2 linked regions of the Homo sapiens genome follow. The protein of the gene in region 2 interacts with the protein of the main gene of each other region in a pairwise test. Each region holds a gene or a part of one and is shown on either strand. Other genes may lie near its edges.

Region 1 (17,129 bases), on a different chromosome or scaffold from region 2:
CTAGAAAAGATACCTTTTTTTTTTTTTTTTGAGACGGAGTCTCGCTCTGTTGCCCAGGCTGGAGTGCAGCGGCGTGACCTCGGCTCACTGTAAGCTCCGCCTCCTGGGTTCACGCCATTCTCCTGCCTCAGCCTCCGGAGTAGCTGGGACTACAGGCGCCCGCCACCATGCCCGGCTAATTTTTTGTATTTTTAATAGAGACAGGGTTTCACCGTGGTCTCGATCTCCTGACCTCGTGATCCGCCCACCTCGGTCTCCCAAAGTGCTGGGATTACAGGCGTGAGCCACCACGCCCAGCCCGTTTTTTTTTTTTTTTTGGAGAGAGAGATGGGGATCTCACCTTTGTTTTGTTGCCCAGGCTGGAGTGCAGTGGTGGTCACAGCCCACTGCAGTCTTGAATTCTTGAGCTCAAGCCATCCTCTCACCTCAGCCTATCGAGTAGCTGGGTCTACACGCATACATCACTATACTCAGCTAATTTTTTATTTTTTTATTTTTTGTAGAGATGAGGTATCACTATGTTGCCTAGGCTGGTCTCAAACTCCTAGGCTCAAGTGATCGCCTTAGCCTCCCATAGCACTGGGATTACAGGCATGAGTCACTGTGCCCAACTTTAAAAGTATAAAAGCTACATTTAATATAACTATATATAATCAAAATTAATTGTATAAAGATTAGTCACACAGCACCAAGAATCTAAGTACAGAACTTTATCAGAATTCCTGAGTACCTCAAAAGTCTGTTTCTGGGCTGGGCACAGTGGCTCACGCATGTAATCCCAGCACTTTGGGAGGCCGAGGTGGGCAGATCACTTGAGGTCAGGAGTTCAAGACCAACCTGGCCAACATGGTGTGACCCTGTCTCTACTAAAAATATAAAAATAAGGCCGGGCGTGGTAGCTCACAGCTGTAATCCCAGCACTTTGGGAGGCCAACGCAAGTGGATCACAAGGTCAGGAGTTCAAGATCAGCCTGGCCAAGATGGTGAAACCCTGTCTGTACTAAAACTACAAAAATTAGCCGGGTGTGGTGGCAGGCACCTGTAATCCCAGCCACTTGGAGGCTGAGGCAGAAGAATCACTTGAACCTGGGCAGCAGAGGTTGCAGCGAGCCAAGATTGCACCACTATACTCCAGCTTGTACGACAGAGTGAGACTTCATCTCAACAAAACAAAACAAAACTATATCTATCTATCTATCTATCTATCTAGATCTAGATCTAGATCTAGATACACACAAAAACTAGCCAGGCATGGTGGTGGCCGCTTGTAATCCCAGCTACCTGGGAGGCTGAGGCAGGAGACTCGCTTGAACCCACGGGGCGGAGGTTGCAGTGAGGCGAGATTGTGCCACTGCACTCCAGCCTGGGCAACAGAGTAAGACTCTGACTTCAAAAAAAAAAAAGTCTGTTTCTAATTTAAACAAAATATGTATGTGTGTGTGTGTGTGTGTGTGTGTCCTTCATCCATTACCTTTGGCAATCAAGGCAAAGTGTGGTCATGCAGGCAGGACAATTCAAGACAGCATCACTATTTGGAACAGGCTGTTGTTGACGTGATCTCTGTGGTCCCAAACCATGGTAACTAGAACAGAAGAAGAAAGTGGGGAGAAAAACATATTAAAACCAGATCTTGGTTTCTAGTGTCATTTTCCAATAAAAAGAACCAGTACTATTCAGAGAAATGGCTAATTCTAGGAATAAGGAACACAAGATGAACCTGGAGCATCTTTTAGTGCCAGAAAAGAAGGAAGTAATCAAGAAAACAAAAACAAAACAGTGAGGTGGTTATGACAAAGGGAAACAGGAGCCAACTGAACAAGTCACCAACTGCCAAAGCTGAAACTGAGCAACAAAATAAAGTAGGACTGGATTACAACCCAAAGTATAAATACCCACGAATCCACGCTAATATAAATGTACTGAATAAATAAATAAATGGAGGAGAACAGACAAATCCCCACACAGAATTCTAAATAATCTATAAAGATGCTCTTCCCTCACAGTGGTGGAGTATAACTCCCTAGTCCTTAAGTCTGGGTTGGACACAGTGACTTCCTTCCAAAGAGTACGGTATGGTAAGGCGGGGTAAAAGACTAACTTTACAGTAGAGAAAGTTAACACTGGTCAGCAAGGTGATCGAGGTCAATACCAACACACAAAACTCAGGTTGGTAGTATGTACTCTTGATATAATGTGAGGAAAATGGCTCTCTACTTCTATGTTCTTACTTATAAAAATCCATAATCCCATCCTAATTATGAGAAAAAACAACAGACAAATTCCAACAGAGGGGCCTCCTACATAGACCTGATTAGTGCTCCTCAAAGTAATTAAGGGCACTGAAAACAAGGAAAGTCTAAGAAACTGACAGAGTCAAGAAGAGCCCAGGGAGACATGACAACTAAAAGTGATGTACTATCCTACACGGGGTCCTCAAACAGAAAAAGAACAGTACATAAAAACTAAGGAAATGTTTTAAAATTATGGACTTTGATTAATAATAATGTATCAAGGCCGGGCTCGGTGGCTCACGCCTGTAATCCCAGCACTTTGGGAGGCCGAGGCGGGCGGATCACGAAGTCAAGAGATCAAGACCATCCTGGCCAACATGGTGAAACCCCATCTCTACTAAAAAAATACAAAAATTAGCTGGGCGTGGTGGCACATGCCTGTAGTCCCAGCTACTCAGGAGGTTGAGGCAGGAGAATCGGTTGAACCCAGGAGACGGAGCTTGCAGTGAGCCGAGATCACGCCACTGCACTCCAGCCTGGGCGACAGAGCGAGACTCTGTCTCCAAAAAAATAAAAAATAAAAAAAATAATAATGTATCAATATTAGTCCATTAATTGTGACAAGTGTACCAAAAATAAAAGTCCATGAATTTTTTAAAAACAGTAAAGCTACATTAAAAAACAAGCACACAGGCTGGGCATGGTGGCTCACGCCTGTAATCCCAGCACTTTGGGAGGCTGAGGTGGGTGGATCACAAGGTCAGGAGTTCAAGACCAGCCTGGCTAACATGGTGAAACCCCGTCTCTACTAAAAATACAAAAATTAGCTAGGCATGGTGGCGGGTACCTATAATCTCAGCTACTTGGGAGGCTGAGGCAGAGAACTGCTTGAACCCAGGAGGTGGAGGTCACAGTGAGCCGAAATTGCGATACTGCACTCCAGCCTGGGCAACAGAGCGAGACTCTGTCCCAAAAAAACAAAAACAAAAACAAGCATAGAGCCAGGCTGGAATTACACCTGTAATCCCAGGCCAAGGTGGGCAGATCACTTGAGCCTAGGAGTTTGAGACCAGCCTGGGCAACATGGTGAAACCCTGTCTCTATAAGAAAATAAAAAAAAAAATGAAAATAAAAATAAACAAGCATAAACCGGGCATGGTGGCTCACACCTTTAATCCCAGCACTTAAGGAGGCCAAGGTAGGAGGGGATTGCTTGAGCCCAGGAGTTTAAGATCAGCCTGGGCAACATAGCAAGACCTTGTGTCTATTAAAAATTAAATTAGAAACAAAAAAAACAAGCATGGACTCAGGAGGCTGAGGCAGGGGGATCATTTGAGCCCAGGAGTTCAGGGCTACATTGAGGTATGATAGCATCAGTGCACTACAGTCTGGGCAACACAGCAAGACCCTGTCTTTAAATTAAAAAAAAAATGACCGGGTGCGGTGGCTCATGCCTGTAACCCCAACACTTTGGGAGGCCGAGGCAGGTGGATCATCTGAGGTCAGGAGTTCGAGACCAGCCTGACCAACATGGAGAAACCCCATCTCTACTAAAAATACAAAATTAGCCAGGTGCAGTGGCACATGCCTGTAATCCCAGCTACTCAGGAGGCTGAGACAGAAGAATCGCTTGAACCTGGGAGGAGGAGGTTGCGGTGAGCCAAGATCACATTTGCACTCCAGCCTGGGCAACAAGAGCAAAACTCCGTCTCAAAAAAAAAAAAAAAAAAATGGCCTGGCACAATGGCTCACACCTGTAATGCCAGCACAGGAGGTGAAGACAGGAGGATCACCTGGGGCCAGGAGTTCAAGATCACCTTGGGCAACACAGCTAGACCTCTCTATTAAAAAAATTTTTTTAATTAGCCAGGTGGTGTGTGCCTATAGTCCCAGCTACTCAGAAGGCTGAGGTGGGAGGAGTGCTTGAACCCGGGAGGCGGTGTGTGCCTACAGTCACAGCTACTCAGGAAGCTGAACCAGGAGGAGTGCTTGAGCCCAGAAGTTTGAGGATACTGTGAGCTATAACTGCACCACTGCACTCCAGCCCAGGCATCTCTTAAAAAAAGGTGGGGGCAGAGGGTGTGGAAACAACACAAACATCCATCCCTCAGTGGATGAAAGGATAAACAAATTGTGGTATACACATACAATGGGATACTATTCAGTCATAAAAAGTAGAGAAGTACTGACATGTGCTAAAATGTAGATGAACTTCAAAAGCACTATGCCCAGTGAAAGAAGCCAGATATAAAAGGTCACATACTGTATAATATCCCATTCATAAGAAATATCTAAAATAAGCAAATCCACAGAGACAGTGCACAGATCAGTGGCTGCCAAGGGGCTGAGGGGAAGGGTAGGGAAACTACCTAACAGTACAGCGTTTCCTTTTGGGATGATGAAAATGGTTGAAACTACATAAAAGTGGTGGCTGTGCAACATTGTGAATGGTATTAAATGCCACTAAATTGTTCACTTTTAAAGTGGGTACTTTTGTTATGTGAATTTTATCTCAAAAAAAATTTTTAACTGCTCCTTGCAGAGCAGGGCTACTCCATAAGCAGTGTACCTAGAGTAGCCTCATCTCAATTTTTTTTTTTTTTTTGAGACAGTCTCATTCAGTCGACCAGGCTGGAGTACAGTGGTACAATATCAGCTCACTGCAACCTCCACCTCCTGGGATCAAGCGATTCTTGTGCCTCCAGAGTAGCTGTGATTACAGGCACACACCACCATGCCAAGGTAATTTTTGTATTTTTAGTAGAGATGGGGTTTCGCCATGTTGGCCAGGCTGGTCTTGAACTCCTGACTTCAAGTGATCCGCCCGCCTTGGCCTCCCAAAGTGCTGGGATTACAGGTGTGAGCCATCATGCCCAGCCTCATCTCAATTTTTAAAAATCAAATTTGTAAGTAGTTAAAAAGAACAATTTGCTAAATCCACTCTTCATCCACAAAACCCTTTTTTTTTTTTTTTTTTTTTTTTGAGATAGGGTCTCATTCTGTCGTCCAGGCTGGAGTGGAGTGGCGTGATCTCAGCTCACTGCAACCTCCACCTCCCAGGTTTGGGCAATTCTCCCGCCTCAGCCTCCTGAGTAGCTGGAATTACAGGTGTGCGCCACTATGGCCCCACTAATTTTTGTATTAGTAGAGACAGAGTTTCACTATGTTCGCCAGGCTGGTCTCAAACTCCCGACCTCAGGTGATCCACCTGCCTCGGCCTCCCAAAGTTGCTGGGATTACAGGTATAAGCCACCACCCTGGCCCATCCACATAAACTCTTAATCTCAAAGTAATTTAAAACAGCATCTGAAAAAAAAAGTCAGTTTTTCTTGAGGGAGAGATTGACTAACGCAGCCTAAATTCAACAAGTTTAAAAAAAAACAAAAAAACAATTGTCGGGCTGGATGCAGTGGCTCAAGCCTGTAATCCCAGCACTTTGGGAGGCCGAGACAGGTGAATCACGAGGTCAGGGGTTCGAGACCAGCCTGGCCAACATGGTGAAACCCGGTCTCTACTAAAAATACAAAAAATTAGCTGTGTGTGGTGGCAGGCGCCTGTAATCCCAACTACTCGGGAAGCTGAGGCAGGAGAATCTCTTGAACGCAGGAGGCGGAGGTTGCAGTGAGCCAAGATCGCGCCACTGCACTCCAGCCCAGGCGACAGTGCAAGACTCTGTCTCAAAAATAATAATAAAAATTTAAAAAATTTTAAAAAAAAGTCTCACTAAAATTTGCTGGTTATTTTCAAAATAAACTACTGAGCAGTTTTTTCCTCTAACTTTTTTGTTTGTGTGTGTGTGTTTGTGTAAACATATACACATATATTCAAAATGTGAATGTAGTAAAAATCATCTTTCAATCTTTTTTTCTAAAGATTCTAAATATTAACTTTAAGTTCTTACCCCCTTCTCTGTGCATCAACCCAGGCCTGATCTCTGTTATCTTTTTCAGGATCATACAGTAATTCGTCATTTGTTGGAATCTTGTGTTGTTTCTTCTTTTTTTTCTTGGTCACCTGTACTAATTTTGAAAATATTAGGATATGGCTAAGAATCATGTGTCAAGTTCACACTTCTTTAAATGAAGAGTCTCATTTCCCAAGCTACACATTTATTTATATTTTCCCTAAAAAGTTAAAAAAGGGACGGGCGCAGTGGCTCACACCTGTAATCCTAGCACTTTGGGAGGCCAAGGTGGGTGGATCACCTGACGTCAGGAGATCGAGACCAGCCTGGACAACATGGCGAAACCCCGTCTCTACTAAAAATACAAAATTAGGGCCAGGTGCGGTGGCTCACGCCTGTAATCCCAGCACTTTGGGAGACCAAGGTGGGCAGATCACCTGAGGTCAGGAGTTCGAGACCAGCCTGGCCAACATGGTGAAACCGCCTCTCTACTAAAAATATAAAAATTAGCTGGGCATGGTAGTAGGCACCTGTAATCCCAGCTACTTGGGGGCCTGAGGCAGAAAAACTGCTTGAACCCAGGAGGCAGAGGTTGCAGTGAGCCGAAATCGTGCCACTGCACTCCAGCCTGGGTGATGAGAGCGAGACTCCGTTTCAAAGAAAAAGAAAATAATAAAATAAAATACAAAATTAGCCAGGCGTGGTGGCAGGCACCTACAATCCCAGCTACCTGGGAGGCTGAGGCAGGAGAATCACTTGAACCCAGGCGGTGGAGGGTGTGGTGAGCCGAGATCACGCCATTGCACTCCAGCCTGGGCAACAAGAGCAAAACTCCGTCTCAAAAAAAAAAAGTTAAAAAAAACCCTTCATCTAAACAAGTGCTTGTCCAGGTAGGGTGCGGTAGCTCACAACCTATAATCCTAGAGCTTTGAGGGGCTGAGACAAGAGGATCGCTTGAGGCCAGGAGTTCAAGACCAGCCTGGCCAGCATAATGAGACCCCATCTCTACAAAAATAAAAATTAAAAATTAGCCAGGCACACCTGTAGTCCTAGCTACTAGGGAAGCTGAGCTGGGAGGATGGCTTGAGCCTAGGAGTCTGAGGATGTAGTGAGCTATAATTGCACCACTGCACTGCTGGAGACTGGGTAAGAGTGAGACCTATCTCTAAAAAAGTAAAAAATTTAACAAAAATTTAAAAAATAAAGTTCTTCTCCAACTAATAAGGCATTAAAATGACAGAGGAGGCAAAAATTGTTTATTTACCCAAAACTGGTATCTCAAGGACTAAGTTCAAACAATGAGAATTCAGAGACTCAAAAGAGCCACTCAAAACAAGCCAAGAATAGAAATTATTTATGATGTATGAATATATATATAAAATGCTACTAAAATTAGAACAAAAATATTTCAAAAGTGAATTAAAAAAAACAGTATGAGGTCAGATACAGTGGCTCACATCTGTAATACCAGCACTTTGGGAGGATTGCTTGAAGCCAGGAATTTGACACCAGCCTAAGCAACAAAGCAAGACCCAATCTTTACCAAAAAAAAAAAAAAAAAAAAAAGAAAGAAAGAAAGGAAGAGGAAAAAAACAAAAAAAAAGAGAAAAAAAAAAACTATGGCCATCTACATACACTAGACTTTTTGAATGTATTCTAGCAGGCAGGGAGTGGTGGCTCATGCCTGTAATCCCAGAACTTTGGGAGGCCAAAGTGGGCAGACAACCTGAGATCAGGAGTTTCAAACCAGCATGACCAACATGGCGAAATCCTGTCTCTTCTAAAAATACAAAAAGTAACCGGGTATGGTAGCTTGTGCCTGTAGTCCCAACTACCAGGAAGGCTGAGGCACCAGAATCGCTTGAACCCAGGAGGCAGAGGCTACAGTGAGCCAAGACTGTGTCACCGCACTCCAGCCTGGGTGACAGAGTGGGACTCTGCCTAAAAAATAAATAAACAAGGCTGGGCGCGGTGGCTCATGCCTGTAATCCCAGCATTTTGGAAGCCTGAGGCGGGCGGATCACGAGGTCAGGAGATCGAGACCATCCTGGCTAACACAGTGAAACCCCATCTCTACTAAGAATGCAAAAATTTAGCCGGGCGTGGTGACGGGCACCTGTAGTCCCAGCTACTCAGCAGGCTGAGGCAGGAGAATGGTGTGAACCCAGGAGGCAGAGCTTGCAGTGAGCTGAGATGACGCCACTGCACTCCAGCCTGGGCGATAGAGCGAGACTTTGTCTCAAAATAAATAAATAAATAAACAAACACATACATTCTAACAGGTCAATATTTAAGTAACAATGCATAAAAGTATAATATTGTTCTTTACCACAGAAATTTGCTATTTGAATATTTCATTGTAATTACTGAAATAATTAGTTTTAGCTCTTGTTATGTTCAACTTTGCTCAAATTTTATAAAAATTCAATTTTCAGGCCGGGCACAGTAGCTCACGCCTGTAATCCCAACACTTTGGGAGGCCGAGGTGGGTGGATCACAAGGTCAGGAGATCAAGACCATCCTGGCTAACACAGTGAAACCCCTTCTCTACTAAAAATACAAAAAATTAGCCGGGTGTGGTGGCGGGCGCCTGTAGTCCCAGCTACTCGGGAGGCTGAGGCAGGAGGATGGCGTGAACCCAGGAGGCAGAGCTTGCAGTGAGCTGAGATTGCGCCACTGCACTCCAGCCTGGGTGACAGAGCGAGACTCCGTCTCAAAAAAAAAAAAAAAGAAAGAAAGAAAGAAAGAAAAATTCAATTTTGAACATAGAGGCTGATTAAAAATCAACGCATTAAGAAAAATTCTGCAGGAGGAGGCCAGGCCGCGGTGGCTCACACCAGTAATCCCGGCACTTTGGGAGGCTGAGGCGGGTGGATCACCTGAGGTCAGGAGTTCAAGACCAGCCTGGCTAACATGGTGAAACCCCGTTTCTCCTAAAAAAACAAAAAATTAGCCAGGCATGGCGACAGGCGTCTGTAAACCCAGCTACTCAAGAGGCTGAGGCAGGAAAATTGCTTGAACCCGGGAGGCACAGGTTGCAGTGAACCAAGATGGTGGTGCCATCGCACTCCAGCTTGGGCAACAAGAGCGAAACTCCATCTCAAAAAAAAAAAAATTCTGCAGGAGGATTAAAACATAGAAACTATTTTCAGGCATGAAAACAAATATTGCTACTATAGGAAACCTAAAGGAAGAGGGGGGAAAAGCCCTGAGGAGGGGAGGTATTGAGTTGGGACACACTCTCTCTCACTCCCTAGGTACATCCAAGCAGCACCACTGTTGGTGCCATGTCCTCACATGCCTGTGTCCCCAGCTTTTTTTTTTTTTTTTTTGAGACGGAGTCTCACTCTGTTGCCCAGGCTGGAGTGCAATGATGCGATCTCAGCTCACTGCAACCTCTACCTCCCTGGTTCAAGCAACTTCCCTGTCTCATCCTCCTGAGTAGCCGGGATTACAGGTGCATGGCACCAAGCCTGGCTAATTTTTTTGTATTTTTAATAGACATGGGGTTTCACCATGTTGGCAAGACTGGTCTAGAACTCCTGACCTCAGGCAATCTGCCCACCTCTGCCTCCCAAAGTGCTGGGATTACAAGCGTGAGCCACCATGCCCAGCCCCCAGTTTTTCTTATTAATCAATCCTGCTTTTGTTTTCACATCAATGGCATCCACTTTATTTATTTATTTATTTATTTGAGACAGTCTCACTCTGTCGCCCAGGCTGGAGTGCAATGGTGCAATCTCAGCTCACTGCAACCTCCGCCTCCTGGGTTCAACTGATTCTCTTGCCTCAGCCTCCCAAGTAGCTGGGACTACAGGCGTGCACCACCATGCCCGGCTTATTTTTGTATTTTTAGTACAGATGGGGTTTCACCAAGTTGGTCAGGCTGGTCTTAAACTCCCAACCTCAGGTGATCTGCCTGCATCAGCCTCCCAAAGTGCTGCCATTACAGGTGTGAGCCACCATGCCTAGCTGTAATTTCTTAAAAGACCAAACTCAGAGGGAAATCCTAACATCTAATAATTGTTAGGTAAACCTTTTTTATAAAATATAACTGCTAAACCTGGTAAATAGGTTACTTACCTGCTCTGTCTTCATCCTCGGAATCAGAATCAAAATATATATCATCGTAGTACCTTGTCGGAGCTGTTGCAACTTTTCCATTTCCTGAGGAAGATCCTATTCAAACCAGAAGTAAAGTTTACAGACTAAATCATACATAATTCACAAGGCAAAAAACTCCATATATTCTTCCATCACCTCAAAACAATATCAACTCATTCACAAACTCATTTGATGGTGAAATATTTTCACATCAGTGAATTACTCGATGTCTATGCCCTATACAGTTACAGAGAACTGGCCCTCCTTAAAATGTTCCAAATCTTGAGAAAATTCTTCTCTCTCCCTTCCCACAAATCTCATTAAATAAAATAGCGATATTTTCAGGTTGCCAGCACACATATCTCTACCTTTCAGTCATACAGTATACCATGCAGAACATAGAACAAACATTTTGTTCTAAGAAACATTAGGAGAAAAAGGGTAAGAACCCTATAGGAAGGCAGGAGGAATGAGTCAAGGACACATTCTTCTCCTCAGTTGTGCCCAGGACCATGACATTACCTATACTTATGTCATCATATGCCCATATCCCTAATTCCTCTTAGTTAGCATCTGCTTTAGTTTTTATTATATTTTTATATGCTTTCAGATTTTTCCAGCTAATACATAGCATATCAGGGTGGAAATCAATGCTGAAGAGTCCTACTTCCTTTTTTTTTTTTTTTGAGACTGAGTCTCACTCTGTTGCCCAGGCTGGAGTGCAATAGCACAATCTCGGCTCACTGCAACCTCTGCCACCTGGGTTCAGGTGATTCCCCTGCCTGACCTTCCCGAGTAGCTGGAATTATAGGCAACTGCCGTCACTCCCAGCTAATTTTTTGTGTTTTTAGTAGAGACAGGGTTTCACCATGTTGGCCAGGCTGGTCTTGAGCTCCTGACCTCATGATCCACCCACCTCAGCCTCCCAAAGTGCTGGGATTACAGGCGTGAGCCACTGCACCCGGCAGAAGAGTCCTACTTTCACAAACCAGTTTTCAGGTCAGGTACATTTTACATAAAGACCAAGTATCAAAATGAACTATGTTTCATTACTCACTAAAGTGAAACAGAAATTTGTGATGATACATAATTAAATCTGCCACATTTTAGTGCCATCTAACCCTAAAAATACTTTTGTAAGTTTGTGTGTCTTTTTTTTTTAACTCGAGTAAAAACTGCAAAATAAAATTATGCAAGTAAACAGTATTAACTAATCTCTTTCCAAGAACACAAGACAGTCATCAAACAAACTCCAAGCCAGGCACAATAGTTTATACCTATAATCCCAGCACTTTGGGAGGCCAATGCAGGAAGATCACTTGAGCCAGGAGTTTAAGACCAGCCTGGGCAACATAGTGAGACCCTGTCTCCACAAATTTTTTTTTTTTTTTTTGAGACGGAGTCTAGCTCTGTCACCCAGGCTGGAGTGCAATGGCACAATCTCGGCTCACTGCAACCTCTGCCTCCCGGGTTTAAGCGATTCTCCTGCCTGGCCTCCTGAGTAGCTCGGACTGCAGGCACGTGCCACCAAGCCCAGCTAATTTTTGTATTTTTAGTAGAGATGGGGTTTCACTGTATTGGCCAGGCTGGTCTCAAACTCCTGACCTCGTGATCCACTGCCTCGGCCTCCCAAAGTGCTGGGATTACAAGCATGAGCCACCACGCCTGGCCTTTTTTTTTTTTGAGACGGAGTCTCACTCTGTTGCCCTGGCTGGGGTGCAGTGCCGCGATCTCAGCTCACTGCAACCTCCGCCTTCCGGGTTCAAGCAATTCTCCTGCCTCGGCCTCCCAAGTAGCTGGGACTGCAGGCACGTGCCACCACACCCAACTAATTTTTGTATTTTTAGTAGAGACGGGGTTTCGCCATGGTGGCCAGACTGGTCTCGAACTCCTGACCTCAGGTGATCCACCCACCTCGGCCTCCCAAAGTGCTAGGATTACAGGTGTGAGCCACTGCACCCGGTCGCTACAGATTTTTTTTTTTTTTAGATGGAGTCTCGCTCTGTCGCTCAGGCTGGAGTGCAGTGGCGTGATCTCAGCTCACTGCAAGCTCCGTCTCCTGGGTTCATGCCATTCTCCTGCCTCAGCCTCCCGAGTAGCTGGGACTACAGGCGCCTGCCACCACGCCCGGCTAATTTTTTGTATTTTTAGTAGACACAGGGTTTCACCGTGTTAGCCAGGATGGTCTCAATCTCCTGACCTCGTGATCCGCCCGCCTCGGCCTCCCAAAGTGCTAGGATTACAGTCGTGAGCCACCGTGCCCGGCCCAAATTTTTTTTTTAATTATCTGGGCACAGTGGTACATGCCTGTAATCTCAGTTATTCAAGAAACGGAGGTGGGAAGATCATTTGAGCCCAGGAGTTTTAGGCTACAGTGAGCTATGATCATGCCACTGCACTCCAGCCTGGGTAACAGAATGAGACATTGAATCTAAAGTAATAAATAAATAACTTTTTTAAATGAGAAAAGGAAGACTCTAGCTCAGACTGCCAAATACATTCACTCCTTCATTCAATAAATATTTATTGAGCACCTACTGAAAGTGCTGGGAACATAGAAGAGCACAAATAAGGTTCCTGCCCTTACAGAGCTTACAAAAATATATATAAAATTGAACCAAAAGTTTACCAGTTCCCAGAGAGGATAACTTGTCCTCCATTGTTTTCATGGTAGAATTTAATTCAGCTTCCATCTCCTTTTCAAATTCATCTTCACTAGATGATTCACTTTCTCCGGTAAGACATTCTCTGATGAGTTTTCGTTTTTGGTCAGGAGTTCCATGTAAAAGCACATCCACTTCATCCTCAGAGCTAGCATACATTTAAATCAAAAAGAATATGAATATTTAAAAATTAAAATAATTTTAAACTCCCAGCATCTCACTGTCCAACAACAATTTTAAGTATTACATGGTTACATTTGATGTACTTATACATTACATATAGCTATTCTCACTTAATAAGCCAGTTCTGCATATTTCCAATCTTCTTTAATTTTTTTTTTTTTTTTTTTTTTTTGAGATGGCATCTCAGTCTGTGACCCAACCTGGAGTGCAGTGGCATGATCTCAGCTCACTGCAACCTCCACCTCCCCAGTTCAAGCAATCCTCCCACCTCGGGTTCCCCAGTAGCTGGAACTACAGGCACATACCACCATTCCCAGCTGTTTTTTTGTTTTGTTTTGTTTTGTTTAATTTTTGTCGAAATGGGGTTTCGCCATGTTGCCCAGGATGGTTTTTTTGTTTGTTTGTTTGTTTGTTTCTTTTGAAACAGAGTCTCGCTCTTGTCGCCCAGGCTGTAGTACAGTGGCATGATTTCTGCTCACCGCAACCTCCACCTCCTGGGCTCAAGCGATTCTCCTGCCTCAGTCTCCCAAGTAGCTGGGATTACAGGATTCAGAATCCGTCTCAAAAAATACATAGATAGATATATAGATAGATAGATATCCTGGTTGTGATACTGCACTATAGTTTTGTAGTATGTTAACACTGGAGGAAACTGGGGAAAGAGTACACAGGATCTCTCTGTATTATTTCTTTTTTTTTTATTATTTTTTATTTTTTGAGATGGGGGTCTCCCTGTGTTGCCCAGGCTGGAGTGCAATGGTGCCATCTTGGCTCACTGAAACTTCCGCCTCCCAGGCTCAAGCCAACCAACCGCCTCACCCTCCTGAGTAGCTGGGACCACAGATATGCACCACCATACCAGCTAATTTTTTGTATTTTCAGTAAAGACATGATTTCATCATGTTGCTCAGGCTGGTCTTGAACTCTTGAGCTCAAGTGATTCTCCTGCCTTGGCCTTCCAAAGTGCTGGGATTACAGATGTGAGCCACTGCACCAGACCTGTATTATTTCTTATAACTGAATGTGAATCTACGAAAACTTCAAAATAAAATGTTTAATTTTTAAAAACTGAATCACAAAGTGAGAGCTATTTTTTCTACAAATTTTCTTCAATCCTTGTCATTATCTCAACCAAAGTCTCAGTTTTCAGCACTGCTGAGAAAGGCAGTCATACATCATGGACCCTAGATATGCAAGTTAAGTATGCCAAGAATGCAAGGTTCTGACCACTGTTCACTCCAGCCATTTCTCAGGATTGTGTTTGCAGCGAACAACAACCTTGAGGAATGAGATAATGTCTCCTTCCAGGACAAAGAGCAGATGTATTTACTGTCTTCTATGAAAGAGGTGGATTCTCCAAGCTCAAGTAGTCTTTAGCCACGATGCCAACCCACTGAATGTGCAGCATTCTTCTAGGACCCTCAGCGTAATACCTGTAGGGTTGACAAGCAAGAGCAAGCCACACAAACATGATGCTCATGCTGCTTGCTGTGCTATGTGTAGTCTTATCTTTGACCCAGGAGTCTCATGTCTTCGGTCAGCTACCGTGAAACAGTTAACAGGCTACAATGTATTAGTTTATAAACAGTGTAAAATTAAATACTGACAGACACCTCTCTAACACTAATCTCCCTTTTTAAAATAATAACCATTTGGCTCAGAGCCTACAACAGGCAATACTGTCTGATAACATTGTTTTGTTTTTATAATATTTATCTTTACAGTTACCTTACCAGTGGCAACTGTCACAGAATTATAAAGCTTCCTTAAAAAAATGATACAACAGTCCTGGCTCCGTGGCTCAGGCCTGTAATCCTAGCACTTTGGGAGCCCGACGCAGGCAGATTGCCTAAGGTCAGGAGTTCAAGACCAGCCTGGCCAACGTGGTGAAAACCCATCTCTACGAAAAATACAAAAAATAAGCCAGGTGTGGTAGCGCATGCCTGTAATCCCAGCTACCCAGGAGGCTGAGGCAGGAGAATTGCTGGAACCCAGGAGGTGGAGGCTACAGTGAGCCAAGATTGCACCAGTGCACTCCAGCCTGGCTGACAGAGTGAGACTCTGTCTCAAAATAAATAAATAAATAAATAAATAATTGAGACATACATATATACATACCTCCTTTCACAGACAGGACCCATTAACTGAAACTCTTTTTCACAGGGAATCCTGGTATCTATCCTCACTCCCAACAAAAGAAATCTTAACAGCAGTCTGATTTCCCATGCATCCAATGTCTCCCCATGACAATATGAGGAAACATTGTTCTTTTGATTTTTTTTTTTTTTAAGAAATGAGGTCTCACTATGTTGCCCAGGCTGTTCCTTTACTACCAGGCTTAAGAGATTCTCTCGCCTCAGACTCCCAAAGTCCTGGGATTACAGGCATGGGCCACCACACCCAGCCAAAGTTGTTAATGAAAGCATGGCTTTACAGAAAGCTTCTTTAGGCAGAATGAATGTTTTAAAGTTTAAGAATAGGATCTGCTGACAGCTTAAGAAATAACTAAATTTGTGTGGAAATATCTCGGCAAAACAGCTTCAAGTTTCCCTGGTAGAATAAAGCCCACCCTTCTGGAAATCCCACGAACCTTCTTCTGTGCCTATCTCAGGTCAATATTCTCTACAATGCTCTGCCAAGAAATATATACTTTATCTTATTACCCTTATTATACTATAAGCCTCTGGAAGACAAGGACCTTATGATTTATCTCTGTAGCTCAGAGCGAGCATACAACAGTCCCTGTCAAAAAATAAAAATAAAAAAGGCTGTTCAATATTCCCTTATTTCTGTTTATGGCAGTTTAGTCTTCAAGATGGACACTTCACATTAAGTCCTGTGAGCCTCACAACAAACATAGTGTGTTATACTATGTTATATAGGTTATACAATTATGTTATTATAGTTCAATTTTACAGGTGAGTAATCGAGGATAACTGACTTGCCTTCCGTCACTCTGCTACTAAGGTGTAGAGACAGGTTTCGATCTCATTGCTTTTGAAGATTTACACGCGGTCCCCCGTGATTCCGGAATATCCCTCTTCCTACAGGCGACATCGGCACCGCCTCCCCCCGGGACTGCGCGACCCCATCAGGAAAGCCCTTTGGCTTCGCACAAGTAACAGGCACGACAGGCTCCCGAGCCGCTAGGGTCTGCGTAGGCTCGGCAGGCGCAACGAATGGAGGCGACCAAAGCCAGGCCTCGACCCAAATCCTCGGGGGCCAGGGTGGGGCGGGAGCCCACCTGCTCAAAGCCGGCTCCTCGTCGCTAGGCTCTTCAACCGCGTAGGGGTCGTAGTCATCCGGAAGCCGGTTCATGGTGGCCTGCAGCGGCCTACACCGTCCACAAGCAATTTGCAGCGTCTCTGTTTACACTGCAAGTCCAGTCCCTAAAGCGCCCCTGACGCCACTTCCGCCTGAACGTCCCAGTCCCCCTTGCGCGCCCGCGCAGACCGACAGCACCGAGGGAGGCAGGTAGAAGGCGGGGAAGGGGCGGAGCAGGAGCGAAAAGGGGCGGGGACGGGACGGGGGCGGGTCTTAATCCCACCATTTTTGTTTTGTTTTGTTTTTTGGAGACGGAGTTTCGCTCTTGTTGCCCAGGCTGGAGTGCAATGGCGCGATCTCGGCTCACCGCAACCTCCGCCTCCCAGGTTCAAGCAATTCTCCTACCGCAGCCTCCCGAGTAGCTGGGATTACAGGCATACACCACCACGCCCGGCTAATTTTGTATTTTTAGTAGAGACGGGGGTTTCTCCATGTTGAGGCTGGTCTCGAACTCCGGACCTCAGGTGATCCGCCCACCTCGACCTTCCAAAATGCTGGGATTACAGGCGTGAGCCACCGCTCCCGGCCAATCCCACCATTTTCTTCCGCAGCTTCTGCTTACAGGAAAATAGCAGCTACCTTGTCACCAAAAATAATAATGATGGGCACCCTCATAAGTGACAGTCTCTGAGGTGAACATGCTACATGCAGCGTCTCATCACCTACGAAGCAGGAATCTAGACGCTGAGGGACACACAGCCCGAAATCCAATAAGTCCTC
Region 2 (16,299 bases):
AAGAGAAAGAGGGGGCAAGGAGGAAGAGGAGGGAAATAAATGAAAGAATGAACTAAAGGAAATGCATGGAATTTAAAACAAAACAGCACGCAAAAAAATAAGCACCTGAAAAGACATTCAATATCATAATTAAAATCACAATGCAATATCACTACCCACTTATTAGAACAGCTAAAGTAAACAATAATGGTAATGTCAAATAATGGCAAGGATGTAGAGAAACAGAGTCTCTCATACATTTCTAGTGTGAATGTAAAATGGCACAGCCACTCTGGAAAATAGTTTTTGCAGTCTTTACCATACAATTCAGCAATCACACCCTTGGCTATTTATTCCAGAGAAATGAAAAATTATGTTCACACAAAAACCTATGGATGAATATTCATAGCAGTTTTATTCATGCTAGAAAAATACTGGAAACAACCCAGATATCCTTCAATGGGTGAGTGGTTGAATAAACTCTAGTGCATCCATGCAATAGGATACTGCTCAGCAATAAAAAGGAATCAATTACTGATACATGCAACAACCTGGCTATGTCTCAAGGGTATTATGCTTAGTAAAAAAAAGCCAATCTGAAAAGATTACAACTGTATGGTTCCATTTATACAACAGTGAAAACTAAGGAAGTCTGTAGTCTAGCACCAACATACCAGTGTCAATTCCTGGTTTTGATATTGTACTACATTACAGGTCACCATTTGACAAAGCGGATGAAGGGACACAGGACTCTTCGTACTATTTTTACAACTTCTTATGAGTCTATAATAACTTTTTTAAGTTTAAAGGAAAAAGAAGAATCTTTGACCCTGTCCAATTTGAATTAGCCACACACGTTTATGAATGCCACTCCCCTCGGGCAGGGCTGGAACTCCCCAACTCCTGTAGTTTAGTGTGAAGCACGGTCAGTGGAAAACACAAGTCCTACTTGGAAGTACATTTACAGAAAATACTCACAAAAGATAAGGGAAAGGAGCAACCAAACCATGCTTCTTAGACACTCTGGTTGATCTCTTGCTCCTTGGGCTTGCGATGATTTATGTGACGAGAACCACATCAACATAGAACTTCAGGCTCTTTTTCTAAAATAGGAAACTTTATATACGAATGGAAGATTTATGAGAACTAAACAGAGGAATTAAAGATGAGCTATTAGGGAAAACAGATGTATTGAAATTACCATTGGAAAAAGACTGAAAAGCTTAGTTTGTCTTGAATTCCGAACTCAATTCTTGCTAACAGTAACCAGGAAGTCAGAGTCTCTTACCAAGACAGTAGCTTTCCCTTTCCTTAAGCTGAAAGGAGTGGGGAGCCAACGTCCGGTTGGTGGGTTTGTTTCTTTTAGAGTCTGGGGGAGGGGAGTGTGGCAAAGGCTACTTGAAGGCAGAATAGAGTAGAGTAGACATCTTTCTCGACCTGCTAATAAAAGCCAAATTGATTCTGAACATAGGGTAGGTTTTTAAGCAATCAGCCATGTTTATATTATTGTTCTTGGTTGAAATTACACAGTTTAGTCAAGAGATTACAATTTTTAAAACTAAAACTGGAACTACAAAAGCCCATATTTTTGTAAAATTCTTTCATGAATTAGCAAGTGTTAGAAAGTCTTGTAATTCATTCAAAAAAGGACCTTGCACTCCAACTCTCTGAATGTAAGGGAGTGAAAAGAAAAAGATCCTTGTCTTGTCTGGAGCCCCAGGGAAAGCCACAGCCTCAACCCCACACTGCGCTTTGTCCTCAGGGCTGTGTTCCTGAGCTTGATTGCCAGTCATTTGCCAGCAAGAGGATGGATTGTTTTGTTAATGTTTCTTCTTCAAGACTCAGGGAGCTCAGGGTAGTCATAGGGACAAGCCAACAGACAGAACCAAATGGTGAGCAGTACCCACTGAGATCTGGGCCTATGGCATGGCTAGTCACAAACTGAACCTCTTCAACCATGTACTTCTGTGTCCTGGCCTGAGGGGTCAAGGGACACACATATGCTTCACTGGGCACAAGGATATGAAGTCAGAGTTTATGCAGCTTCATAAATCAGGCTGCAATCTAATTTCTAGATAAACGATTTTAAAATGTTAAAAGCATCTCCCATGTTGCTATTACTCAGATAGTCCCAAGAATCAGAATGTTAAATAAGATGTTACTTAAATGTTGATTAAAAATTAATTGGGTGTGGTGGCAAGTGCCTAACGTCCTAGGAGGCTGAGGCAGGAGGATCGTTTGAGCCCGGGAGGCCGAGGCTGCAGTGAGCTATGATCACACCACTGCACTCTAGCCTGGGCAACAGAGCAAAACTCTGTTTTTTAACAAAATGAACCAAAAAAAGTGTTTAAAATATTATTTTACATTCTTCCATTCAGTAGAATTTATAATCTACATTTTGCCAGGGGCTTTTTATAACCATTATTATTTTGAAAAAAAAAAATAACTTGTAAGCTTTTTTTTTTTTTTTTTTTTCCCAGACAGGTGTTGCGCTCTGTGGCCCAGCCTGGAGTACAGTGGCAAGATCTTGGCTAACAGCAACCTCCGCCTCCCAGGCTCAAGCCATCCAAACTATCCTCCCACTTCCGCCTCCAGAGTAGCTGGGACTACAGGTGCATGTCACCATGCCCCGCTAATTTTTGTATTTTTAGTAGAGACAGGGTTTTGCCATGTTGTCCAGGCTGGTCTTAAACTCCTGGGCTCAAGTGACCTGCCCACTTCCCAAAGTGCTGGGATTACAGGTGTGAGCCACTGGGCCCAGGAACTAAAGGAAATGCATGGAACATGCATTTATAAAGGAAAATAAAGGAAAAATGGCCCATTTTATCTTCTACTTATACTGTCTCACATATACCACCTCCCCCACCCGCCCCCAGCACACATACTTGCCACTGATTTTGAAAAAGAAATCGGCCGCTACTTTGAGCTTATTGCTTTTAAAATATCAGTTTAAAGCTCAAAACACTGTTTGAAAATTGTTACATCAGAAAGCCTATGCTGGGCTAAAAAAGCCTTTCTTAGGTTCATCTGCATCGTGGGAAGCCCCGTTCGGTATTAAGTTACCTGTGCATTGTAAGTGTCCCCACCAGTCAGTAAAGAACTAGGTGTTACTGCATAGTTCCAGGGTACAGCCTGGCGTTAGGCACATAGTAGCTGTTTAATCATCATTTCTTGAATTACGTAGATTAACTTGTCAGGACTCACATGTTCACATGGACAGGAATGTAGTTATTAACTACATTCAGGTTAGTCCACCCTTATTTTATATATTTGTTTCCAATTAAAAACAAACTATTATGTGAAGAACTCCAGACTCCCCAAGAATTCTGTTTTTGCTGGAGCCAAGAGGGTGGGAAACAATCATATGGCATCTAGTCTTCGAAGATGGCCTCAAAGAGCCATGCATCCCAGAATTCATGCCCTTGTGTAGTTCCTCCTGTACTAAACCCAGGTTGAGCCTGTGTGCAGTAAAGGATTAACTCAGCAAGATTGGGAAGTTCGAACCCTGCAAATTCCAAAGAAAGGACTGGCCCTTGACTAGATCTTGGGAGACAGTCTCCAAGCCCTTGGAATATAGTGCTTGATAAGAGTGCCTTTGTATGCCTAGGGCTTGAGCCATGACACATTGTTTATGCTAACAATGTGATTTATGATATTCACCTGGAGCTCTGGGCCTCCCTGTTTCAGTTTGACTTCTGGAGGGGCTGGAGCCTGAGTAACTAAGGTTAGTCATGTGAGTGCTCCATGCCTCATTAACAACCCTGGACTCCCAAGGCTGGGGTGAGCTTCCCTGGTTGGCAATATTTTGTACATGTTGTCACACATCATTGCTAGGAAAATTTTGTGCTGTCTATAAAATTCTACTGGTCGAGGACAGCTGGAAGCTTGCACCTTCGTCTCTCCTGGCCTCTGCCCTATGTGCCTTCTTCCTTTGCTGATTTTCATCTGTATCCTTTTGCTATAATAAACCATAACTATGAGTACAATAGCTTTTCTGAGATTTCTGAGTCCTTCTAGAGAATCATCAAACCTGAGGGTGTCTTGGTGACCCCAATACAGCCTGTGATTTGATTTGACCAGTAGAATGAGGCAGAAATGATATTGTGCCTGTTCTGGGCATCAGCCTTAAGAATGCCTGGAAACTTCTGCTCTTGCAATTTGGGGTGCTCTTAGTAAGTAGTAAGTAGAGACCATGGGGAGAGGAGAGGCCCAGTCATCCAGGTGTCCCAGCCAAATCTTTGTAAGACTCCAGTCCCAGCCATGATCTGACCACAACCACATGATAGACCCCAAATCAGAGAACTGCCCAGGTGAGCACATTCAACGCACAGAATTGTGAGCGGGAACAAAATGGTTGTTGTTTTAAACCACTAAATTTTGGGGTGGCTTATAATACAGCAGTGGATAACTAAAACCAGCATGAATAATCAAGTGATTTAAGAGATTCAGAATTTAATTGGTTAAGAGATTATACATAAGTAGCTGCTAGAAATCATTACTTTCAACAATGCAACCCAAAACAATTTTCCTAAATTGAAAGCAAAAACCGATTTTTTTTTAAGGAGACTGGAATTGAACAAAATTCTCTCAGGCTGCTGAAGTCTGTTGCTTCATTTATTTTAGACTCAGTCTTCTTTTCATCGCTGATTTGGAAATAGTGAAAGGCCACCCGTAAACAATACCTCACATAGGAATAGCCTTCAGGAGGTCTCAGAGCCTTCCATGTCTTTAAAAATTGTATCTTTAAAATTAGAATATGAGGTAATTGCTCTTATGCAAATTTCAGAGACAACATGAGCGAGCTCCCTGGCAGGCAGAAGCTGGACGTCCTGGTTTCCTAACTGCTCCCACAAATGCCCTCTGTACCCTGCTGGGTTCCATCTGGCCACACTCCAGTGCCTCTCCCAGAGGAAGGCATGCCAAATTCCTGACACGTGGCGTTTGAAAATACCATGGAACGTTTCCACTCGTGGATTTCACCATGTTCTCCAGTGAATATTTTAGCAAGCTAAAAATGTGACTCCTCGGTCATGAGAACACTAAGTCCATATGATTCGAAAAGAGCAATAATGCTGGAACTTTGATCCAATTATCAGCAAGTCCTCTTCCAGGAGATTAAATGTCTTATAGTATTTTATAATTTGCTTAGCAGGTATTTATCCTTTAGTGAAAACCAATGGTCTTAGAAGAGAGCAGCAAAAGATGCTGACAAATCATTTAAATGGCTAAGTGGTCATTCTTGCTGGCCTAATAAAAGTCCATTTCTAGGAAGACGAAACCTCAGCTTCTTATAAATCATCAATTATCCCAGATAATGGTAACAATATAGATATTTATACTCTGAGTTTTTATTTCCGCGTCTTGTGTTTCAACTTCACATCAGGTTGGTTTTTAAAAATTTATTTATTTACTTCGAGACAGAGTTTCTTTTTTTTTTTTTGAGACAAAGTCTCACTCTTGTTGCCCAGGCTGGAGTGCAGTGGTGTAATCTTGGCTCACTGCAACCTCTGCCTCCTGGGTTCAAGTGGTTCTCCTGCCTCAGCCTCCCAAGTAGCTGGGATTACAGGCATGTGGCACTGCACCCGGCTAATTTTGTATTTTTAGTAGAGATGGGGTTTCACCATGTTGGTCAGGCTGGTCTTGAACTCTGGACCTCAGGTGATCCGCCCACCTCAGTCTCCCGAAGTGTTGGGATTACAGGCATGAGCCACCGCACTCAGCCTGGCAGTTTTAAACGAATGAATTCATCTGTAAGCTTTTGAATGGAAAAACCAAAGTAGAAAGAAACATATTGTCTTACATTATTCTACAAATCAAAACTTTTAAAAATCAAATTGTCTTTCTTGTATTAAGAACAAACCGCAAGTGCCTGATCATCTACTTTATTTCCACGAGGCAGAAATACAGTTATGCAGCTGATGTCAGGGAAGGCGGAGAATTTCCTCAGCCATCCATGAAGAAAGATAAGGGGCCTTATCCACTGGCTGTCTAATCTTATAAAGATCTCATGCAAATTTGGTGGACATAGGGCACAATTCTCTATCCTTGAAGAACATTTTCCAAAGCACAGATGTTTTTCTCTTAATTGTGAATGCTGACTGACTTGTCCATATCCTTTCTCAGTGCTCAGCAGATGGTACGATTTGGGACTCGCTTGTTCCCTATAACGTGGGGCTGATGTTCTTTGCTACGTGGAAAACACATCTTTGGTGAGACAGAAATGAATCAATATTACACAAAAATGTTTCCATTTCTGGAATTTCCCTGAGATAAAAATATCTTTCTGGCTTTGGGTATACATAAGTGACCGTGCAGACACTTAGTAAAAGAGAAAACAGATTTTCAATACTTCGTGGTGATGGTGACTATACGGGATTATAAGTAGTTAAAGGTTTTCCTGTTGCATCATTTTGGAAACAAAAAGCTGACTCATTTTCTGGTTAATGCTTCAATATTTTCATTAGGGAGTTTCTATAAAGTTTTTATCTGAATCACAGAAAGTACAATTATTTCAGAGGTAGGATAAAATTTTTTCTGTCATAAACAGCACTGTGTACTAAAACCTGCTATGAGTTTAACAAATCACCTAGAAGCCTAATGCTCAAGAATGCAATATATCAAGTAAAACACTGAAAAGTTCAACTAGTTTAGATAATGCAAGTATGGAAATGCAAGATTGACTAAAACTTTTAAATATTATCACTCTTATTAACATGCTAATTTAATTCATTTTACTGGAGTATTTTAATTTCCTGGCAATTGAATAGCACTTTTTACTACAAATATTTCATCATTTGGATAAACATATTCTTTTATTTACCATTTGTCAGGTTTTGTATGCTAAATTGCAACTGCTTATATACACTCATCAAGTATCTCAAGGATAAATTAAAATTCTTAGTAAAAATCCAACTGACCGGTACAGACCACAAAAAGTACTATTTTAAGCCTTTGGGGGCTTAAAAATTGTGTGTGTGTGTGTGTGTGTGTGTGTATTCACATGGTGGGAGAAAAAGAACTTTCCAGATAATTGTGAATGGCATACTATTATATAAGAGTTTAAAACGCAATATTTCTGTACGATCAAAGTTCTTAACTCATGCTTTTTTTTTTTTTTTTTTTTTTTGAGACGGGGTTTCGTTCTTGTTGCCCAGGCTGCAGTGCAGTGGTACAATCTCAGCTCACTGCAACCTCTGCCTCCCAGGTTCCAGCGATTCTCCTGCCTTAGCCTCCCAAGTAGCTGGGATTACAGGTGCCTGCCACCACATCTGGCTAATCTTGTGTATTTTTAGTAGCAGTGGGGTTTCACCACGTTGGCCAGGCTGGTCTCGAACTCCTCACCTCAAGTGATCCTCCCACCTCCGCCTCCCAAAGTTCTGGGCTTACAAGCATAAGCCACCGCACCCACCCCATGCTTTACTCTTAAACTAATTTTGAGTTGTATATGAAAGGCCTAATAATCAGAAAAAGGCTATTTCTTAACTTAACTTGCTCAAATATTTTGAGCCTCCAAATCTGGAAAATAATGTTGAAGTTTGAAACTGATGCCGTGCCTACTCTAGGGAGCACAGTACTGAACTGCTGCTTCCTTGCTTCTCTTGGTGAATGCACATTGAGTGCCTTGTCATGCTCTGAACCCACCACTGCTAGGGACAGCTGTGGGGGAGCAGCTCACTGCACCTCAGAAGTCAACGTTAAAAGTCATTGTGAGCACCTAGAAGTGAAGTTCCACGAGACAGAAAACTGAGCCACAAGATGCCCCCAAAGTAGGAGTCATGTTGAAAACTTTGAAAAATGTCTTTGTACAACATCTACACAGATCTTTAGAGAACAGGCCAGACCTGTGCTGACTTAGGTACTGCCTAAAATGTCACTATATGAGGAACCATTTCAGCAGCATACTGCCCACGCTTCTCTGAGCCAAAGATGTTCCTAGCACTGCCTTTAGCCATATCATCTTTAAGTGAAAATAAGATTTTATACATATTCCGGCTGGGACACCTCGAGCACATGTGACCTCAGGAAATTCCTTAACTTCTATTCCCCTAGTTTCCTTATCTATAAGATGGTGAAGATTGTGGCAGAATTAAATGAGTTAATGTGCCCGACACATAATACAAACTACTCTGCGTTAGTTGTCCATTAGTATTATCATCCACTTATCATATCCACTCATAATTTTTGCAGAGAAGCCACCAGCACAAAATAAAATCAATTACAACACAATTTTTTTCAAAACGTGAACAGATACTATTTTATAAAAAGGTTCATAGGATCCCCAAATTAGTATTAACTCGGCTCAGATTTATCTACCCTAAGCACGTGGGGATTCTTCCCAGCTCCCACGCTCCTTGCCACCCTAAATGCTCAAGGGGAGTCCTATTGTATTAGAAATGAACTTGCTAATCACGACTTTGGACCTGATCCAAGACATGCTTTTCAGGCACAGCACTGGTAAGGAGATGGGTCCCCTCCAGAAAATGCTGAGAAATGGTAGCAAACAGGATTCCCTCCTTCGGTCTACTCCTCACTGCCTTCCCTCTGTGGGAGATGAAGCATTGCTCCCCCAATCCCATGCACATTTGATTGCTAGCCTGCTGGCACAACCCTATGATCCAGTGTGTCCAGAGAGATCCAGATTTCTCCCTCCGTACGTTTTCTCTCTCTGGTTGGTCCTGTCTATAGCTACAGATGAGCAAGAAGCATCCATGGACTGCCCAGGGCTTTCGTTTCCCATACCTCTGCTGTTTGAGATCTGGAGAACAGAACACATCCAGTCAGTAGCTCACACCCCCCATCACATTCTCAGCCTTCACATGTGAGGAAAACAGCTGGTCAAGGAAGGCTGCTGAATTCCATTTATAAGCCACTTAGCAAGTTATGAAGCTAGAAGGGTCATTTCTGTAGTCACTGTGTTATTGTTACAGCATATACTGATCACCTACTGGCTCTAGGAAGTGAGAATGATACTTTCAGTTCAAATCTTAGTGTCAGGATTTAATATCAAACAGGAAGAAACTCTACACCTTTGCTGCTTGTCTTAGCCAAGCAAATGAGGGTGTCAGAGAAACTGACCACCCTCTCTAGGCTGAAATGGGTTAGAGCAGATCTCAACTTCTGGAATTTTTAGTTGTGGAACCTTTCCTGGTAAACTATTATTTTAATGTCAATATTCTGGGAGGCAGGCAAATTTAAGGCAAGAGAGTACACTAAATCATAGGCACAGTGGCTCACACCTGTAATCCCAACACTTTCGGAGGCCGAGGCAGGCAGATCATTTGAAGTCAGGAGTTCAAGACCAGCCTGGGCAACATGGTGAAACCCCATCTCGACTAAAAATACAAAAATTAGCTGGGTGTGGTGGTGCATGCCTGTAATCCCAGCTACTTGGGAGGCAGAGGCAGGAGAATCACTTGAACCTGGGAGGCAGAGGTTGCAGTGAGCCAAAATCATGCCACTGCATTCTAGCCTAAACAACAGAGCGAGACTCAAAAAAAAAAAAAAAAAAATCATAGACACAGTGACAATGGAAATGTTTATTGCTGGTGGTTGGGTCTGTCATTTCCTAGAGGACATAGCTGGCCAGCAGATTTTCATTTCTTTTTTACAAAATAAACAAATGCCTACTTTATTATTTATACACAGAAAATTATATAGAAACACCACACAAACTGCTTGAAATACAAATATTCTTTGGTTTACTTATCAAAGTAAAAAATAACAAAAATCTTATCAGTTAAATAAAAAAGTGACATTCTTTATCAAGCCTTCTTAAACACTGAAACGCACGCATTTTTATGCTCATGTTCTTTAGCAGTATTTCTCCCCTTTTGCCCCTCATTCCCCTAAATTGTTTCAATGAGTTCATCTGTAGAATGAAGATTGTTACCTTTCTTAATGCTACTTACTTTTTATTATCTCAATATCAAGACCAATCTAGACTTTTTTGTCTCTTACATGTGAAATGGATGTAAAAAATGGAAAATTCACCAGCACTTTTTAAGATAACATAAAAGAAGCCCTAAGCAAGCATTTCAAGGCAATGACACACCATTACATTTCTGAGAAATTTAAGTATCATTGGTACTTAAAAGGAGAACTCAATTCCAGAAGCATATTCTTATACTGGACATTATTCATAATAGCTAATATAGTTCATTTCCACAGTACTGATTTCAGATAAGCCATTTTTTTTTTCCTGAGGGTTGACTACCTCAGACTTAAATCCTGAATGTCGATGACTCAATCTTAACAAAACAGTCAGCTGTAGACATGAAAATTGAATTGTTTCAAAAGGAGCAATGATAGCAAGAGAAAGTTCTTGGCATTTTAAGAAAAGTACATATACATAGCAAGAAATGAAAGTAAATCAAAATACATAGCTTTGTACATGTTAGAAATATCCAATGTGCCACCAACACAACAACTGCCCTATTAAAAAGTCCTCAGGTCTGGAGACATCTGTATTTTTCTTTGTATAACTACATTTGCATTACCCAACCACATATCTCTCCCATGGTCTGTTACCCGTTAGGAAGCTTTTAACCAGAATTTTTGGCAATATGCTTTTCTTCAAATAAAACAAGCCTTCAAATAAATCATTATGTCTGACAACTGAATTGGGTAAAGTCTTTCTGAAATATGTGTAATCTTTAGAAAATTCTTCTTTTTTCCTTCATAAATCAGCAGTGCTCCATCTTCAAATAAATCATGATCAGTCACAATCTTAACTCATGTGCTCATATGTTCTCTTCATCCAACATTTTGTTGATACCATCACATAGTTTTTGTAAGTGGGGTTTAAAATTCCCAAAAGGATTATACAAGGCAGCCAAAAATTCACAATCTGAAAAATGATCAAACACATTATTAACCCGTCCATGTGACTTGGCAGTGAGGTGGCGCTGAATGATTTGGTGCAGCATCTCTCTGCATTCATTTAACAGCCTGGATAACACATTCCGGTCAAAGGTATAATCCACCTGATGGAAACTGACCACGGTCATAGCAAGCTGATGAACTTTCTTCTTAAATTTCTCCATCAATGCTAGCTCATCTTGATTAAACTGATTATTCCTATAAAGAATGGCCAGCTTGATGACTGTCTTGATGAGGTTCTTGATGATCTTCTCTGCCTCCTTCTTGTTTTGGGTGTACTCCCTGGTCACTCTGTAGAGCTCATCCAGCACCTCACTACTTGTGTCGTCTATTAAGGTGGTGGCGATGGATTTGGACACCATTTTACCCAAGATCTTCTTTTGTGCCTGAACGGCCAGGTTTTTGGAATTAAAGACATCTGTGGCCACTAAAAAAAAAAAAAGAGAGGAAAAGAATTAACAATTAGTAAATATCAGCAAGTGAAGCGAACTAAAAACAGGTATTTGGGAGCACTTTTTTTCCTCATTTTCCCACCATTTGTGGTTTGTCTTACATCTACCGACATTAGTCTCTGTTCAGAAAAGAATTTTTGGCTGGGTGGAGTGGCTCACACCTGTAATCCCAACACTTTGGGAGACTGAGGTGGGCAGACCACTTGAGATCAGGAGTTTGAGACCAGCCCGGCCTACATGGGCGTGGTGGTGGGCACCTATAATCCCAGCTACTCAGGAGGCTGAGGCAGAAGAATCGCTTGAACCCAGGAGGCGGAGGCTGCAGTGAGCTGAGATTGCTCCACTGCACTCCAGCCTGGGTGACACAGCGAGACTCTGTCTCAAAACAAAAAAAAAAATACAAAATCAACTCTATACCTGTCATCTGGGCAACAGCAACCACAAGCGATTTAAAAGAAATTCATTTAAATGGAAGAAGAACAAATGGCAAAGCCATAATATTGAGTAAAATGGCAGATTAAGCAAATCAAAAGGAAAGCCTTGTTTTATAATCCGGTTGCAAAAAGTCAAATTTCCCAAGACATTGGCCAGTGCCTACCAATTTGGCTGTCCTAAGTACCTTGAATTTCAGCCTCCAGAAGTCGAGTGTTGAAAAGAAGTGCTCCTTGGAGAGCTCATTGTCACTTGCTATTTCTGATGAATGGCCATTGTTCACTTTACATTTTTACACATTTTGGGGAAATAACCTTTTCATGAGCTAATGAAATGTGCTACATGAAAAATATACTTTGAAAAAGCTGTTGCTTAGAGTTTACTTTTGGAATTATAACTTCTGACAGATGTTTACAATATACATAATAATGGCTATACATATTAAATATTAAACAGACACTATATGTAATCTTCCCACCTTAGAGCTGGTCAAGTGAAAATGCTCAATAAATGTTTATTCTCCAAACCAAGTTTACTTTTCTTCTACCACAATTTTCCCCACTCCATGCATGTAGCAATCTTTTTTTTTTTTTTTTTTTGAGACGGAGTTTCACTCTTTTTGCCCAGGCTGGAGTGCAATGGCGTGATCTTGGCTCACTGCAACCTCCACCTCCCGGGTTCAAGTGATTCTCACAACTCAGTCTCCAGAGTAGCTGGGATTATAGGCACCCTCCACCATGCCCGGCTAATTGTGTATTTTCAGTAGAGACGGGGTTTCACCATGTTGGCCAGGCTGGTCTCGAACTCCTGGCCTCAGGTGATCTGCCCATCTCAGCCTCCCAAAGTGCTGGGATTACAGGCATGAGCCACCGCACCTGGCCCATTTCTCTCGCTTCTCCTAAGGCTTAAGAACTGCAGTTCTTTGGGTGTCTACTCAATCTCTGAGTCGAGTGGCAACTGTTCTCTCCATATATGCCAGTGTTTAAGCCTAGGCCTGGGTATCAGAAAGCAGTCATTTGGTAATGAAAGATAAAAAGTTTAAAAATACAGATACATACAAATGAGTCAAGGCATCAATGATTATATAAGATTATTTCTAGTTTGGATAGGCTAGCATCATTAGGAAGCAAAAAGGCAGCTGCTTCAAAATCCAGACTGGGAAGACATATAGGAAGAGTGACTCCCTTAATCCAGAACTGCCATGTTGGATTTAAAATTGGGGAAAGGCGGGGTGTGGTGGCTCACACTTGAAATCCCAGCACATTGGCAGGCCCAGGTAGGGAGAGGATCACTTGAGCCCAGGAGTTTGACACCAGCCTGGGCAACATAGCAAAACCCCATTGCAACAAAAAACTACAAAAAAAAAAAAAAAATTAGCCAGGTGTGGTGGCATGCACCTGTAGTCCCAGTTACTAGGGAGTTGGAGGTGGGAGAATAATCTGAGCCTGGGAAGTTGAGGCTGCAGTGAGCAGTGATTGCACTACTGCACTCCAGCCTGGGCAACAAAGTGAGACCCTGTCTCAGAAAAAATTAAAATTAAATAAAATTGAGGAAAAGAAGAACCAAATTAGATTTGAAATTTGGACCAAAGTAGTTCGTGGTATATAGTAGAGGCAGCTGCAAAATGGTTCCTTATGACCTGAACATCATTTATAAATATACAGTGCCATACATCCACTCAAAGAATGTCTTGATTGAATAAGAAAGGGTCCCCTCACAAATGTCGAAATTTAAACTTCTGAAACATGAACTGAAACTGCAGAAGAACTAAAATATATTTTGAAAAAGAGAAGGAAAGTGAAAATGTGTGAGAAACAGCCAACTTTATGGAGAAGTTTCCATCATTTAATGTTTTATGTTTTTATCATTTAAGCAGAAATCTGTTTCTATTCCTATTCTTCAATGATTTGCAAAAGAGTATAAAGATTAATTCACACTAAAGAATTTATGTCAAAAGAAATGGCATCCATGTAGCTAACAGTATCACATTAAAACCAGGGACCATATTTCATCTTAGAACTCCTGATATAGACCTCAAAAAAAATCAATAAACTTGATTTATATAGGGATACCCAACCATTTTCAGCTACTCAGCAGATAACCAGGATTTCAGTAATATATTACATATAAAGTTGAAATGTTATTGTGTTTTTTTTTAATGTTTTAGAACATGGCACAGTCTACAAATATCTTACCTGGGATTTACTACAAGTCTATCAGTTGGACATACTTTATGTTGTGAAATATTGAAACCAGAGGGAGAGGTATTCATAAGATTTCTCCTTTATCCAAGACTGGACTTTCATGTTTACACCTCTTCTCAGCTACTTTTCTGATTAAATCTCAATATCCCATTTAACTTCAAACATGGAAAACAAAAACTCTATGATACAGCACTTCAACTTCCTGCAAGAGAGTGTGTAACAGGCAAATCTACTGCCAACTAAGCAAGATCATTCCCCATTTACTGGTAATCAAGTATGAATCAAGATAGAGAAGTTGATCTCTGAGGCTTTCATATTTATCCTAGAGGAACTTCAAACCCCGCTCCAGAAACACAGCAGCTGTGTCACACTTTCCTTTTATTCTTTGGGTTATTCCAGTGAAGTCGTCTTTTTAAATGAGGTTGAAGCTCCTTGTTCCCCTCCACCATCTGAAGCTCTTTCTCCCCCTCCACCAAGAAGACATGCATGAGTAGATTTATTTTCCAGCATTAGAGAAAGTTTTTTTGAAGCCAACTGGGGCTTGTGGCTGAGAGTCGCTGGCCAGGGATGTGTGGTCTGTGCTCATGAAGTTTGTTTCTTTTTCTTGCAAATTAACTGCTGTTAGCCATTCCTGTGCAGGCTCATTTGTCAGTTCCACATGCTCTACCAGATCCCTTAAAAGTCTGGTGTATCTCAGAGCTAGTCCTGGATCAAGTTTTTCTCCTTCAGTCTATCCTCACCCCTGTGTGATCTCATCCACTGCCACAGCTTCAGATACCACCCATGTGCCAATGACTCCCATAGCCATAACTCAGCCCTGACCTCTTTTCTGGACTCATTTTGTAAGTGCATTCAAGATTTTTCTTTCCTTGACTATTTTGCAGGCATCTCAAATTTACCATATGCAAAACTGATCTTTGATTCTCTCCTGCCTCCCTACTAAGTGCTCCTCTTTCACTCTTTATGATCTCAATTAATAGCATCCCTTCCAACCTTTTGCTCAATCAAATCAGAGACCTGGGGATCATCCACCATACCATTCTCTCCCTCACCCAGTCCATTATTAAGTTCTTTCCATTCCACCTTCCTCCTGCATTTCTCTGAATTCTATCCATTTCCCTCCATCTCCACGGACAGCAGCCTAGTCCAAACCCCTTTCTATCTCTTTTCACATATCAGCCAGAGTTTCAAGAAATGAAATTTGCAAATGGGGCCGGGCGCAGTGGCTCACACCTGTAATCCCAGCACTTTAGGAGGATAAGGTGGGAGGATCACTTGAGCCCAGGACTTTGAGACCAGCCTGGGCAACATAGCAAGACCCTGTCTCTACAAAAAAAACTCAAAAAAAAAAAAAAATAGCTGGGCATGTAGTCCTATTTGCTCAGGGGGCTGAGGTGGGAGGACTGCCCGAGCCCAGGAGTTCAAGGCTACAGAGCTGCAGTGAGCTATAATCATGCCACTGTACTCCAGCCTGGGCGACACAGCAAGGCCCTGTCTCAGAAAAGAAAAGAAAAGAAAAGAAAAAAAAAGATGCTTCATGTAAGTTCTTTGCTAACTATCACACCTCCTTGTTCCTTAAATCCTCTTCATTTGCCTACATTTTTATTGTCTGCCTCTCCCTACTAGGATTTAAACTCTGAGAGCAAAGATTCTGTGTATCATGTTCACTGTGTCAACTTGCAGGCCTAGAGAGTGGCTGGTCCAGAAGCAGCAATCAATTTCCCCTATCTCATCCACAATATACTCAAATACTTTTCTATGAAAACATGTTGGCCTGTAAAACGAGAGTTGTAAATACATTAGTGGGTGTTTTTGTTTGTTGTATTAAAAGGTAGAAAAACAGGTATTTGTTTTACCTCACTAAACATGTGGTTTTTCTTCCCTCTAAGTGCGCTCCAGAGTATGATTTCTCTTACTGTCATCAACCAGTTCTTTTAAAGAGGAGAGATTTGTTGTGCATAATGGGAAAACATCCAAGGACAATAATGCAAATATTTAGAGTAAAAGCAAGGTGTAGTTCTGACTTGAACTGTAGCAGGAGATTAAACACAGGCCCACCTCTACTTCTGGCTGGATCTATGTTTAGACATGTGCCAGAGGGATACCTAAGGCATGTCCTGGGAAGCAACTAAGATGTAAACAGGAGATGTTCCCCAAGGAGAAAGTGCTGAAAATATTCATTCAGTTTTTTGCCTCTTAAGATCAATTCACTTGTGTTTGGAAACAGACATGTAAATTGTTCATTAATGAAGAATAATGCTGTATTTAAAAAAAAATACAAAGCATTACCACCACATTAAAACTGTTTAAGATTATTTTCTAGAAATAGGGTGTAAATGTTATTTTACATTACT

Evidence for each region.
Region 1: the proteins of TNFAIP8 (region 2) and EAPP interact in binary tests that used the Homo sapiens proteins (3 or more experiments, as listed by UniProt).

Annotation. Positions count from the first base shown.
Region 1 is NC_000014.9:34,523,226-34,540,354, forward strand, and holds the start of EAPP (E2F-associated phosphoprotein), read right to left. Parts: upstream 16,477-17,129; 5' UTR 16,404-16,476; coding exon 16,330-16,403; intron 13,051-16,329; coding exon 12,869-13,050; intron 10,315-12,868; coding exon 10,219-10,314; intron 6,251-10,218; coding exon 6,133-6,250; intron 1,583-6,132; coding exon 1,472-1,582; intron 1-1,471. UniProt on the Homo sapiens protein: May play an important role in the fine-tuning of both major E2F1 activities, the regulation of the cell-cycle and the induction of apoptosis. Promotes S-phase entry, and inhibits p14(ARP) expression.
Region 2 is NC_000005.10:119,387,801-119,404,099, reverse strand, and holds the end of TNFAIP8 (tumor necrosis factor alpha-induced protein 8), read right to left. Parts: intron 13,098-16,299; exon of another isoform or gene 11,929-13,097; intron 11,285-11,928; coding exon 10,719-11,284; 3' UTR 4,412-10,718; downstream 1-4,411. UniProt on the Homo sapiens protein: Acts as a negative mediator of apoptosis and may play a role in tumor progression.